4 linked regions of the Homo sapiens genome follow. The protein of the gene in region 1 interacts with the protein of each later gene in a pairwise test. Each region holds a gene or a part of one and is shown in the gene's direction. Other genes may lie near its edges.

The links. Proteins that work in one complex are often made in the same cells at the same time.
Region 2: the proteins of TNFSF12 (region 1) and CDK1 interact in binary tests that used the Homo sapiens proteins (3 or more experiments, as listed by UniProt).
Region 3: the proteins of TNFSF12 (region 1) and SGTA interact in binary tests that used the Homo sapiens proteins (3 or more experiments, as listed by UniProt).
Region 4: the proteins of TNFSF12 (region 1) and LMNA interact in a two-hybrid assay, tested with the Homo sapiens proteins (one large-scale study listed by BioGRID).

What each region holds. Positions count from the first base shown.
Region 1 is NC_000017.11:7,552,058-7,555,219, forward strand, and holds part of TNFSF12 (tumor necrosis factor ligand superfamily member 12 proprotein), read left to right. Parts: intron 1-1,529; exon of another isoform or gene 1,530-1,768; intron 1,769-3,162. UniProt on the Homo sapiens protein: Binds to FN14 and possibly also to TNRFSF12/APO3. Weak inducer of apoptosis in some cell types. Mediates NF-kappa-B activation. Promotes angiogenesis and the proliferation of endothelial cells. Also involved in induction of inflammatory cytokines.
Region 2 is NC_000010.11:60,784,978-60,788,477, forward strand, and holds part of CDK1 (cyclin-dependent kinase 1), read left to right. Parts: intron 1-686; coding exon 687-810; coding exon of another isoform or gene 811-822; exon of another isoform or gene 823-2,092; intron 2,093-3,082; coding exon 3,083-3,253; intron 3,254-3,500. UniProt on the Homo sapiens protein: Plays a key role in the control of the eukaryotic cell cycle by modulating the centrosome cycle as well as mitotic onset; promotes G2-M transition via association with multiple interphase cyclins.
Region 3 is NC_000019.10:2,756,745-2,759,273, reverse strand, and holds part of SGTA (small glutamine-rich tetratricopeptide repeat-containing protein alpha), read left to right. Parts: coding exon 1-17; intron 18-1,491; coding exon 1,492-1,581; intron 1,582-1,816; coding exon 1,817-1,931; 3' UTR 1,932-1,937; intron 1,938-2,529. UniProt on the Homo sapiens protein: Co-chaperone that binds misfolded and hydrophobic patches-containing client proteins in the cytosol. Mediates their targeting to the endoplasmic reticulum but also regulates their sorting to the proteasome when targeting fails.
Region 4 is NC_000001.11:156,113,460-156,117,510, forward strand, and holds the start of LMNA (lamin), read left to right. Parts: upstream 1-1,251; 5' UTR 1,252-1,459; coding exon 1,460-1,815; intron 1,816-4,051.

The sequences.
Region 1 (3,162 bases):
TTACAGGCATGAGCCACTGCACCCAGCCAGCTTCTAGATTTTTAACTTGGGTATCTCTGGGAAGAATGATGCCATTTCCTAAGAAGGGATTGACCAAGGAATAAATAGGTTGGGAAGTATGTAAGATAATTATTAACGTTGAGAAGTCTAAAATAAACAAGCGGATAAATGACAATAAAGTAAATTCCAGAAATGGATGGCTGGACATTGTCGACTAGCTTAGGCTAGGTCAGGACGGATAAAGCCAGGAGTCATGGCCATATGGATGGCTTTTTTTTTTTTTTTTTTGAGACAGAGTCTCGCTCTGTCACCCAGGCTGGAGTGCAGTGGTTCGATCTTGGCTCACTGCAACATCTGCCTCCTGGGTCCAAGCGATTCTCCTGTCTCAGCCTCCCAAGTAGCTGAGATTATAGGCGGGTGCCACCACACCCAGCTCATTTTTGTATTTTTTAGTAGAGACAGGGTTTCACCGTGTTGGCCAGGCTGGTCTTGAACTCCTGATCTCAGGTGATCCGCCAGCCTCAGCCTCCCAAAGTGCTGGGATTACAGGTGTGAGCCCTTGTGCCCGGCCTATCGATGGCATTTAAAGCCACAGGATTGGGTGAGACGCCAGGAGAAAGAAGGGCCCCACGAATGAAGCCCTGAGACTCTTGGGCATCTTGAAGTGGAGCTGAGGGGAAAACCAGCAGAGACTGAAAAGAAGCTGGAGAGAGAGGAAGAAACCCAGGGAGGGTGGCATCCTGGATTCGGAGAAACCACTGTTTCAAGGAGGATGTGGCTGTCTGTGTTGAATGCAGCTGAGAGATCACATGAAATGAGAACAGAGAAATGATGGCTGGGTTTGGTAACGTGAAAGTCCTGCTGACCTTAAAGAGGGTGGTTTCAGTGGCATAGTTAGAACAGGAAGGCAGTGTGCATTGGGTTGAGAAGAAAATGAGAAATAAGGAACTGGAGGCAGGGACAACCTTTTTTTTTTTTTTTTTTTTTTTTTTTTTTTTTTTTTTTGTGACAGAGTTTCACTCTTGTCACCCAGGCTGGATCCAGTGCAATGGCACGATCTCGGCTGACCGTAACCTCCACCTCCCGGGTTCAAGCAATTCTCCTGCCTCAGCCTCCCCAGTAGCTGAGATTACAGGCATGCGCCACCACGCCTGGCTAATTTTGTATTTTTAGTAGAGACAGGGTTTCTCCATGTTGGTCAGGCTGGTCTCAAACTCCCGACCTCAGGTGTTCCACCCGCTTCGGCCTCCCAAAGTGCTGGGATTACAAGCATGAGCCACTGCACCCGGCCTAGGACAACCCTTTTTAGAAGTTTCTCTGTAACAAGGAGCAGAGAAATAGGCCAGTAGGTGGAGGGGTGTGTGGACCAAGGAAAAGTTTAGTTCTGTGAACAATACTATTTTCATCTGATCTAACATGTACTGAGGGCTTTCTTGAGATAGGCACTGTGTCTGGCACTTGTGTTTGGTCTTATCTAATCCTCACAACAGCCCTAAAAGGAAGATACTCTAATTACCTCCATTTTACAGATGGAGGTTACACAACTTGTCTGAGGCCATGAGATACTAAGTGGTGGAGCCAAGATTTGAACCCAGCTAGAATGTGCCTGTGTACTGGACATGGTCTGCATGAAAGGCGAGGTGGCTGGTGCAGGGGTGAGGGGTCCATGCAGGGGCCACATCCAAAAAGGGGAGAGGGAAGTTTCCAGAAAGAAGAGAGGACACATCTCCCACCATTACCAGAGGGTCAAAGGAGAACAAGAGACCAGGTGGGTTTGTAGATTTGCTGGGGGGAGATGAGGGAACCTTTGCTCGATGACTTCTAGGTCCTCTGGACAACTAGGGAGATGGAGACAGGAGATTTGAGGAGAAATGGTACAAAATCTCAACTTGCTGATTATGAAAGCAAGCTTCGTGGGGGAATGTAAGATTGCCAGGCAGGACGGAATGTCCAGGTGAGGTTTGTGGCTGGAGACAAGTGATATACCAGGCAAGCCCTCCGTGCTCCTGGGCACACCATGCCCTTAGGCTACAAGCAGCCTTTGCTTAGGCTGGCTTCGTAGCTAGGAATGCCCTCTCTTCTCTGCCCTCCCTACTCTTCATGCCCAGATCAGCCTTCCTCCCCTCTGTATAGACCACTTATTTTGGCAATTATCCAGACATTCATTCATTCATTGACTCAACAGGCATTGAAGACCTACTGTTTGCTAGGGGCCAGGCTAGGTGCCCACAGCAACTAATATCCAGACTCTTTTTTTTTTTTTTTTTTTTTTTTGAGATGGAGTCTCACTCTGTCGCCCAGGCTGGAGTGTAGTGGCGCGATCTCGGCTTACTGCAAGCTCCGCCTCCTGGGTTCATGCCATTCTCCTGCCTCAGCCTCCCAAGTAGCTGGGACTACAGGCGCCCGCCACCACGCCTGGCTAATTTTTTTTTATTTTTTAGTAGAGACGGGGTTTCACCGTGTTAGCCAGGATGGTCTCGATCTCCTGACCTCGTGATCCACCCAACTCGGCCTCCCAAAGTGCTGGGATTACAGGCGTGAGCCACCGCGCCCAGCCGGTCAGACCCATTTTTTTTTTTGAGATGGAGTTTTGCTCTTGTTGCCCCAGCTGGAGTGCAGTGGCGCCATCTCGGCTCACTGCAGCCTTCTCGGGTTCAAGTGATTCTCCTGCCTCAGTCTCCCGAGTAGCTGGGACTACAGGCGCCTGCCACCACGCCTGGCTAATTTTTTTTTTATGTTTTAGTAGAGACGGGGTTTCACCGTGTTAGCCAGGAGCGTCTCGATCTCCTGACCTCGTGATCCACCCACCTTGGCCTCCCAAGGTGCTGGGATTACAGGCGTGAGCCACTGTGCCCAGCCTCAGACCAACTCTTAAGGAGTCACTGTCTAGGAGAGGAAACAAGCATATAAATTTGTAATTACAGGAACATACAAAAAAAATTAGCCAGGTTTGGTGGCACATGCCTGTAATCCCAGCTACTCAGGAGGCTGAAGCATGAGAATCACTTGAACCCGGGAGGCGGAGGCTGCAGTGAGCCGAGATTGTGCCACTGCACTCCAGCCTGGGTGACAAGAGTGAGACTCCATCTCAAAAAAAAATTTGTAATTACAGTGGAATATGACAAGAACAATAATAAAAGTGGCCAAGATACCTGGCAACAC
Region 2 (3,500 bases), on another chromosome or scaffold:
GAACCCTATTTTTGGTAGTTGAGAATGCCGCACATATGTAAAAGAGAACAGGCTGTTAAAGCAGGAACAGAGTTGGAGGAGCTGGGTGATGTAGATTAATATTTGGGCCTAGAATAGCAAGGTAAATTGGCCATGGGAGTAAAGCCGTTTTCATAGAGCTTTGTCAACTCTCTCCTACTTGGGGAGCTCTAGTTCCTGAAGACCCTTTAGTTAGAGTCTTAAGAAAAGTAGCTAGGTCAAATGAAAAAGATTTTTTTTCCTTAAAGTATTTGCATTGGGTGTTTTTGGAGACCTGTCTTCCTAACAGTCCAAGTTAAAATCTAATTGTACTTGGCTGGGGCTAGAGATTGGAAGTAGCTTTTAAGGTCAGATACCACTTTAAAATTTATTTGTATAATTCACTTCAGTGAAAAAATAAGCTCTCAGCAATTAGTAGCCAACCTAGATATGTTCTTTTGAATACAGGCTCCTTATAAATAAGCACCTCCTGTACAAGGCTTAATTTTAAATAGTTGCCCTGAGATTCCTTTCTTAAATTTGAGTTTTGAGTCTCTTCCATTAGGGAAGCTACTACGTCTTCCCCAGTTTTTATTATAGCAACTGAAATTATGGAAGGAGTTTTATTTTGTGAAACAGAGGTCAAAAATGTTTGCTGGATTCTTCTCTCATATATTTTTTTTCCCCAGTCTTCAGGATGTGCTTATGCAGGATTCCAGGTTATATCTCATCTTTGAGTTTCTTTCCATGGATCTGAAGAAATACTTGGATTCTATCCCTCCTGGTCAGTACATGGATTCTTCACTTGTTAAGGTAAAAGCTTAACTAATTTTATTAATATTTATGCACTGTGGATATAAAGGGACTATATATAGAAGTCCCTGCATTTTGTGGGAATATGCTTGGAAAAAGTGTTAGAATAAGAAAAAGTATTTCATTTTTCTCCCTCATGGTTAGTTTATACAGGTTAGAGATACCCATGTTATTACCAGATAGTGTTTCTAGTAAGTAAAAATTAGTGCCTGAGATAACATAGAACTGGTAGGTATTGTTGGAAGCTAGGGTAGTCTGGTCTTTCTTTGGCTGTCAGATACATGTAAAACAAAGTAATGAAAGCCTAGGGCAGAGTGGTGGTTGTAGGTGTTTTATTCCAGTTTTGAACATGTTTTGGTCAATTTATTGTAGACATTTATTATATTTCAGGTAAATTATAAAATTGTATAGTTTTAAGTACTGAAGTATATAAAAGTGTCTTATTCTTGCACCAGTTCTACCAAACCACTCTGCAGAGGTAGCGCTGTTAGTTTTATTTGTAATCTTACACTTGTATGTATGTTCACTTTGTATGTATATAAAGATTTTTTTTTTTACACAAGGTGGACTTATTTGCATATGTATATATACATATTTTCCCTTTTTTGTGTAAAACATTATCAAGACGTAGATCTACCTATGTCTATTTACATTTTTGATATAATTAAACCACTTCCATATTGATGAACATTTAAATTATTTTCCAACTTGGTTATTGTTGCTCTTATTAACAGTACTGCACTGAATGTCCTTATAGATATTTATCTTCGTATGCAACTTTATAGGATAAATTTTTAGAATGGGAATGATGGATTGAAGATGTTTATTTACATTTTGATAGATATTGCCGGTTGCCCCCTAAAAAACTTGTAGCAATTTACTCTTAAATACTCATGGTGTGTAATACTTATTGTTTTAGTACATCATTGCCAAAACTTGGTTTTATCAATCTGTTAACTATGTGAAAAAGGCATATTAAGATTGTTTTAATTTTATATTTCATGACAATTTAACACTTCATATTTAGCTATTATAAACCGCCTATATTTTCGTTAGGATACGTTCTTTAACAATCTTGCATGACTTTTGGACTTTCTGCTTTTATGTCTTGCTTAAGTCTTCCTCACTCAAAGATCGAATGTATTAGAATAATACATGTCAGTATTTTTCTGGTAGTTTTAGTAAGTCCTGTCTTCCACACATACTTTTTTTGTCTTAAATTCTGTATTAAGATTTATTTTGACTTAAAAACTGGGATACAGATTCTGCTTTATCTTTTTCCAAATGGCTAGCCAGTTGTTCTAACTGGTTTTATGTACAGGCAACAATGGTTTTACTTACAATTTTTCAGTTTTACAATGAAGCAGAAATGATGCACATTCACTAGAAACCATACTTCATTTACCCATACAACCATTCTGTTTTTTCACTTTCAGTACAGTATTCAATAAATAATGAGGTATTCAACACTTCCAACTATATGCTAATGTAAGTGTTTTGAGCACAATTAAGGTGGGCTACGCTTAGCTACGTTTGGTAGGTTAGGTGTGTTCAATGCATTTCGACAAGGTATTTTCAGCTTAGAATGAGTTTAACCAGATGGATCATCCGTTTTGTTTTGTTTTTTGAACACCACTTGTCCCTCTAAGATGGAGCATCTGTATTACTTTCCAATTTCAAACTGTAAGTCATTTTTCTGTGTACTTTGTTTTTGTAATATCCATGCTACTTCAGATGTCAATGACATTGTCTTTGGCAACAAATGTCTTGTAAAGCACTTTTCTCTGAACTAAGCAGCATTTTATGATAATTTTATCCATTGAAATATATAATCATAATATCTTTGCCATCACTTTTAGAATCTAATTTTTTCAAGAAGGAAATGAATATGTAAAAATGAAAGATAGAAAAGGCCAACTGTATTGAAGATACAAAATAGAGTTGGTAGCGGTATATAGAAGAAAAATCAAGAGGCTTCTGTGTAGAAAACCAATTTGTAATTTAAGGATCGGGGACCAAAAATGTTTAAAGACTAAATGTGTTCACATTACTATAGATATGTCTATAAGGTGAAGATTCTTTTCTTAGGTATACAAATGTGATGTTGTATATAAATGGGCTTCCCACCCACAAATGCTTATTAGCCTAAAATGGCCTGAAAGCTCTAGTAATTAAATTATTTCTCTGCGTCCTAATTTTTTGTCTTTGAAACAGATTATTTAGAAAATCATGTACTTCGCTTAAGTTTCTAACTTTTACTTGCTTTTTCCAGAGTTATTTATACCAAATCCTACAGGGGATTGTGTTTTGTCACTCTAGAAGAGTTCTTCACAGAGACTTAAAACCTCAAAATCTCTTGATTGATGACAAAGGAACAATTAAACTGGCTGATTTTGGCCTTGCCAGAGCTTTTGGAATACCTATCAGAGTATATACACATGAGGCAAGTGGAATAGTGGTTTTTGATGGCTTTTGAATGTGTGTGATTGCTAGATTATTTTCTGTATTTGTGAAAGTCAAGAAATAACTCAATAAAAGATATCTACTCTGTGGCAGTATCAATTTATTGCCTCTCAGCTCCAAATTCATTGCATGCTATGTGAAAATGGAACTGAAGCCTTTAAGTATTTTTTCTTTACCAGCTGCTATGTTGTTAAGGTAGAGGGTACTAGAGGGACATGGCAGGAGGA
Region 3 (2,529 bases), on another chromosome or scaffold:
CCCCAGATTCAGCAGCTGTAAGTGACAACCGGGTTTCTTCGGGTCTTGTTGTGGTTAAATTTCCTTTTATTGTGGGTAAATTCACTTAACATAAAACTAACCACTTTAAAGTGTGCAACTTAATGGCATTAAGGACTTTCACACTGTCATGCAACTGTCACCACTATCACACTGTCATGCAACTGTCACCACCATCACACTGTCATGCAACTGTCACCACCATTGAGCACCAACCCATCTTCATCACCTCCGAAAGAAGCCCCTTCCCCCTCAGCTGTCACTCCCCAACCCCTCTCCTATCCCCTGACAACCACGCATCCCCTTCCTGTCTCTGTGGATGGGCCTGTCCTGGACATTTCGTAGAAATGGGATCACACACTGCGTGAACTTTGGTGTCTGGCGTCTCTCACTGAGCGTGACGTCCTCAAGGTGCATGTGTGCTGGGGCCTGGGTCAGGGCCTCGCTCCTTTTCATGGCTGAGTAATATTCCAGTGTGGAGGGACCACGCTGTGCTGATCCACACATCTATCCATGGACATTTGGGCTGTTTCTACCTTTTGTCTGTTGTGAACGGTGCTGCTTGAGCACGGGTGTGCAATCGTCTGTGTGAATCCTGTTTTCGTTTCTCTTGGATATAAACTTCTGAGTGCACTCGCTGGCTCATAGGGTCACTCCCCAGTAAGCGCTGTGCGCACTGGGGAGCTGCTCACCTGTTTTCATGGTGAAATCTTTTTTTCTTTCTCCTTTTTTTTTTTTTGAGACAGAATCTTGCTCTGTCACCCAGGCTGGAGTGCAGTGGCAGAATCTTGGCTCACTGCAACCTCTGCCTCCCGGGATCAAGTGGGTCTTCCCAAGTAGCTGGAATTACAGGCATCCACCACCATGCCCGGCTGATTTTTGCATTTTTAGTAGAGATGGGGTTTCACCATGTTGGCCAGGCTGGTCTTGAACTCCTGACCTCAGGTGATCCACCCGCCTCAGCCTCCCAAAGTGCAGGGATGACAGGTGTGAGCCACCGCGGCTGGCCCACGGTCAAATCTTAAAGCATGGTTTCCCAGCCACAGCACCGTGGCCATTTGAGCTGGACCAGTTTCTGGAGCAGGGCCGTCCTGGGCACTGCAGGGTGCTGAGCACTGTCTCTAGCCTCCATCCACTCCATGCCAGGAGCACCCCCTGCCCCTGTCTTGGCGTAACCCAATCATGGCTGTTGCAAATGTCCGCTGCCATTGCAGGGGTCCTCTGGGGGCAGGATCACCCCCTGGCTGAGAACTACGCTCTTTAGGCCAAAGAAAGAGGGGTGTTCTGGGAAAGCAGGTGAAAGTCACAGGGTGGGTTTGGGCCCTGGAGGCCCACCAGGTGGTGAGAGAGAATCCTCTCCTGCAGGGGAAGGTGAAGGGCTGAGAGGGATTCTCTCCCGGGCCACTGCGAGGGCCTGCAGTGGGGGTGGCGGTCAGGCTGTCCCGGCTGCGAGTCACGCGCTCTCTCCTGCAGCATGTCCGGCATGATTTCGGGTGGCAACAACCCCTTGGGAACTCCCGGCACCAGCCCCTCGCAGAACGACCTGGCCAGCCTCATCCAGGCGTGAGTGGAACTGCTTCCAAGAGGACGGAGGACGTGGGCGGCGGGCAGGGCTCGCAGGCGGAAGGGAAGGAGGAGAGCGAAAGTGCTGCGTCCCCTGCTCCGAAGGGCCCAGCGTCCTCCAGCGAGGGGTCAGGCCTGTCTTTGGGGTGGAGGGCCCGAGGGGTCAGCTGGGGATGGACGGAGGCAGCAGGCAGCCTCCTGGCCCTGGCTGAGCCCCATGTGCCCTTCCCCGCAGGGGCCAGCAGTTTGCCCAGCAGATGCAGCAGCAGAACCCAGAGTTGATAGAGCAGCTCAGGAGCCAGATCCGGAGTCGGACGCCCAGCGCCAGCAACGACGACCAGCAGGAGTGACGCTGCGTGAGTGCATGGGGCCGGGGGCTGGGGGGTGGCCAGCAGGAGTGACACCACGTGAGTGCCTGGCAGTGAGGGCAGCCAGCAGGAGTGACGCCCGGGGGCTGTGGAGCCTGTCTGGACACTGGACAGCGAGTCCTGGGTGCATCCAGCTCAGAAGATCACCCTGAACCGCCCAGGCAGGTGGGGGCATCTCTGGGCATTGGGCCCCTTTCCAGGTGGCCACCAAGTCCTGCTCCCCACTCCTTTCCCATCTGTGGATCGGCGCTGGGTGGAGATTAGGGGAGAGCCACAGCTCCCTGGAAGGGCTGGTGTCTGGGGTCCCCCCTGCCTAAGGCCGCCTGCAGAAGCTCTTTGTTTCTGCAGTGTCGGGGCTGCCACCTCGGGGGTGGGGGCGAGGTCATCGAGTGGTGGAAAGGACAAGCCGGGTACCTGCCTTTGACTGCGCCCGAGCGTTCTGCCTGCATTTTGTGAGGGATTTTTTGTCCTTTTCTCACTGTGAGCAGGTGTTGCACTTACAGTTGTTTAAAAATACACTCAGTGTCCCCCATGGGTTCCAGGGGCCCGTGGCTGGCTTGGTTTCCTTCCCCAGGGGCCC
Region 4 (4,051 bases), on another chromosome or scaffold:
CGAACCCTGGGGACCTGAGTGATCTCGTTTTGTGAGAGAGCCTGGCCCCTCCCCAGAGCCAGCTGCAGAATGGACCTGGCCAGAGAGGAAAGTAGAGATGAGTATGGTGCTGGCCTTTGCAGCCAGCAAGGCTGTGGGGTCTTTGCTGTTCCTGTCCCCCACTACCTTCTTGCCCCCCACTACCTTCTTTCTGGCTGAAACCAGGATAGAGACCCAATATTGGCTGTCCAGCCCCCAGCCCTGCTTCCCCTTTCAGGCCCCTCTGGGAACCACAGAAATCTGGGACCTAGTGTCTTGGCAACGTAATGAATGCATGCACAGCTCTGGTATCTGTTTTAAATTATCCATTAAAATAAGTACAGTTCTGGGGGAAAAAAATAAGTTGACTGGGTGCGGTAAGCAGTAGAAAGGGACTGAAGGGGGAAGGAACCCAGGCAGTGCTTGGGTCCAAAGGAAGGGGACAGGAGATGGAAGGGGCAGTGCCTGGCTCCTATTCTTGGCTTTCTTTAGGGGACTTCTTTAGGGGACTGTGGCTTGTTGCTTGGGTCTAAAAACGAATGCTTGGCTTTGAAGAGAGATAGATTGGGGCAAAAGAAAGAAAAAAAGGGACCCCCCAAACTCCTTGATCCCTGGCCCCAAACTGGGGGCATAAAGGAACTCAGGTTCCAGAACTTTGCTCCCCCCAGGGAACCCAGGCATTCCTTCTCCACCCCACTCCTGGCACACTGAGATGCAGCTCTGAATGGGCTGCCCACGTGTGGAGGGGGGTTGGGGTGACTCACTATTACTACTGGGAGGACAGGGGGAGCCAGTGGTGGAAGAAGGGTGAGTCACACTGATGGGCACCAGCCTCAGCCCTCCCCCCACTTTCCTGGCTCCCAGCCCTGCCTACCTGACCCTCTCCCTTGCTTTGCGCCCACTTCCCTCTCTTTCTCCCCGACCCTTTTGCCCACCCACTCTCCCTCCTTGGCTCTGCCCTCTAGCCCAGAAGGTCTGAGGCAATGGGGGCAAGCTTGGAGCCGACAGTGCTGAGCAGGCAGGAGCCAAGAGAGGGGAAGCTTGAGCCTCACGCAGTTAGGGGTGCGCTGGAGAGGGTGGGGCCCGACTCCGCCACACCCCAACGGTCCTTCCCCCTCCTCACCACTCCCGCCCCCACCCCCAATGGATCTGGGACTGCCCCTTTAAGAGTAGTGGCCCCTCCTCCCTTCAGAGGAGGACCTATTAGAGCCTTTGCCCCGGCGTCGGTGACTCAGTGTTCGCGGGAGCGCCGCACCTACACCAGCCAACCCAGATCCCGAGGTCCGACAGCGCCCGGCCCAGATCCCCACGCCTGCCAGGAGCAAGCCGAGAGCCAGCCGGCCGGCGCACTCCGACTCCGAGCAGTCTCTGTCCTTCGACCCGAGCCCCGCGCCCTTTCCGGGACCCCTGCCCCGCGGGCAGCGCTGCCAACCTGCCGGCCATGGAGACCCCGTCCCAGCGGCGCGCCACCCGCAGCGGGGCGCAGGCCAGCTCCACTCCGCTGTCGCCCACCCGCATCACCCGGCTGCAGGAGAAGGAGGACCTGCAGGAGCTCAATGATCGCTTGGCGGTCTACATCGACCGTGTGCGCTCGCTGGAAACGGAGAACGCAGGGCTGCGCCTTCGCATCACCGAGTCTGAAGAGGTGGTCAGCCGCGAGGTGTCCGGCATCAAGGCCGCCTACGAGGCCGAGCTCGGGGATGCCCGCAAGACCCTTGACTCAGTAGCCAAGGAGCGCGCCCGCCTGCAGCTGGAGCTGAGCAAAGTGCGTGAGGAGTTTAAGGAGCTGAAAGCGCGGTGAGTTCGCCCAGGTGGCTGCGTGCCTGGCGGGGAGTGGAGAGGGCGGCGGGCCGGCGCCCCTGGCCGGCCGCAGGAAGGGAGTGAGAGGGCCTGGAGGCCGATAACTTTGCCATAGTCTCCTCCCTCCCCGGAACTGCCCCCAGCGGGTGACTGGCAGTGTCAAGGGGAATTGTCAAGACAGGACAGAGAGGGAAGTGGTGGTCTCTGGGAGAGGGTCGGGGAGGATATAAGGAATGGTGGGGGTATCAGGGACAAGTTGGGGCTGGGGCCGGCCTGAATTCGGTCAGATTGGGATTTGCCAACTATTTGGAGCCGGGGGGAGGGGCTTGAGCAAAACAGAACTAGCCCTGCCAGCTCGAAGAACTCTGGGCACCCAGGACACATCGGAGTGGCAGAAAGGGTCCTGTTAGAACTTTGTTAGCGGGCTTGGCACTGTGCTAGCTTTGCCCAAGCTGGCTCTGAACACATGATGCCCACTAAGACATAACTCTCAAGTTGGCATCTGTCCAGCGTGTTGGAGCGAGGTCAGGAAGGCAGGGCAATCCCCCTTTTCCCTCCCAAGGGCTTGGCGGTGGCCCCCCCTCAGCATGACCTTGTCCTGGGTTCTAAGGGTTGGGAAGTTCTCCCTCACTCTGCCACTCTGCGTGTCTGGGACCTTCCTTGGGCTCTGACAGGCCCACCAAAAGAGCTCCGGGAGATGAGAGATCGGCTCCCCCGCAGCTCCCACAGCCCTTGGCCTGCTTGGCCCAGGAATGCAAGGGAGGGAGGGAGGCAGAGGGCAGAGGCTCCCAGCTCAGGAAGTTGTGTTATGCCCAGGTCTGGCCGCACTCCTCCCTTGGCCCTCTGCCTAGTGTCTTCGAGGGTTGGGGGCACTGTCCTTCCCTCCTTGGGGTGAGCCACTTTCATTTTCCCAGCGGGGCCAGGCAGTCTTTGCTCGGGCCCATCCTCTTAGCTGCTGACGTTTTGATCTTTGTCTTATTGAAGTGCTGGAATACAGTGACATTTTTGAAATCCAGCCGTTGGAAGATTCAGGCCACTCCCACTTTACCCACCCCTGCCCCACCCTACCCCACCCTACTCAACTGCACCTTCTTCTTTTCTAAAAAAGCCTTTGGGAGCTTGGAAGTATAGGCCCTCTCTTCCAGCCCCATCAAAATTTGTTTCCCTTCTTCCTGCCTTCCCTTTCTCTATGCAGACCCAGGCCAAGAGCACTAAGGGTGCTTGGAGATCCGTAAAGGGCTGTTGGCTTTGACTTCTTCTCTCTCTTTTATCATCTACTCCAAACTTCTGCTCTTCCTAGAACCCTTTGCTAGGTGTGGTTTTGTTGCCCAGGCTGGAGTGCAATGGCACAATCTCGGCTCACTGCAACCTCCGCCTCCCAGGTTCAAGTGATTCTCCTGCCTCAGCCTCCCGAATAGCTGAGATTACAGGCATGTGCCACCATGCCGGGCTAATTTTGTATTTCTAGTAGAGATGGGGTTTCTCCATGTTCGTCAGGCTAGTCTTGAACTCCCAACCTCAGGTGATCCACCCGCCTCAGCCTCCCAAAGTGCTAGGATTACAGGCATGAGCCACCACGCTGGGCCCATCACCCTTCTTTCTGAAGAGTCAATGGAAGTTGTGTGTAGGAAGACAGGCTTAACGGTTTTTTTTTGAGACAGGGTCTTACTCTGTCACCCAGACTGGAGTGAAGTGGTGCGATCTTGGCTCACCACAACCTCTGCCTCCCAGGCTCAAAAGATTCTCCTGCCTCAGCCTCCTGAGTAGCTGGGATTATAAGTGTGTGCCACCACACATGGCTATTTTTTTTTTTTTTTTTTTTTTTAATTTTTAGTAGAGATGGGGTTTCACCATGTTGGCTAGGCTGGTCTCAAACTCCTGACTTCAAATGATCCACCTGCCTCGGCCTCCCAAAGTGCTGGGATTACAGGTGTGAGCTACCATGCCCGGCCATCAACCTTTATTTTGTTTTTTTGAGACGGAGTCTTGCTTTGTTGCCCAGGCTGGAGTACAGTAGTGTGACCTCAGGTCACTGCAACCTCTGCCTCCCAGGTTCAAGCCATGCTCCTGCCTCAGCCTCCCAAGTAGCTGGGACTATAGGTGCCTGCCACCACGCCCGGCTACTTTTTATATTTTTAGTAGAGACGGGGTTTCACCATGTTGGCCAGGGTGATCTCGAACTCCTGACCTCAAGTGATCTGCCTGCCTCAGCCTCCCAAAGTGTTGGGATTAG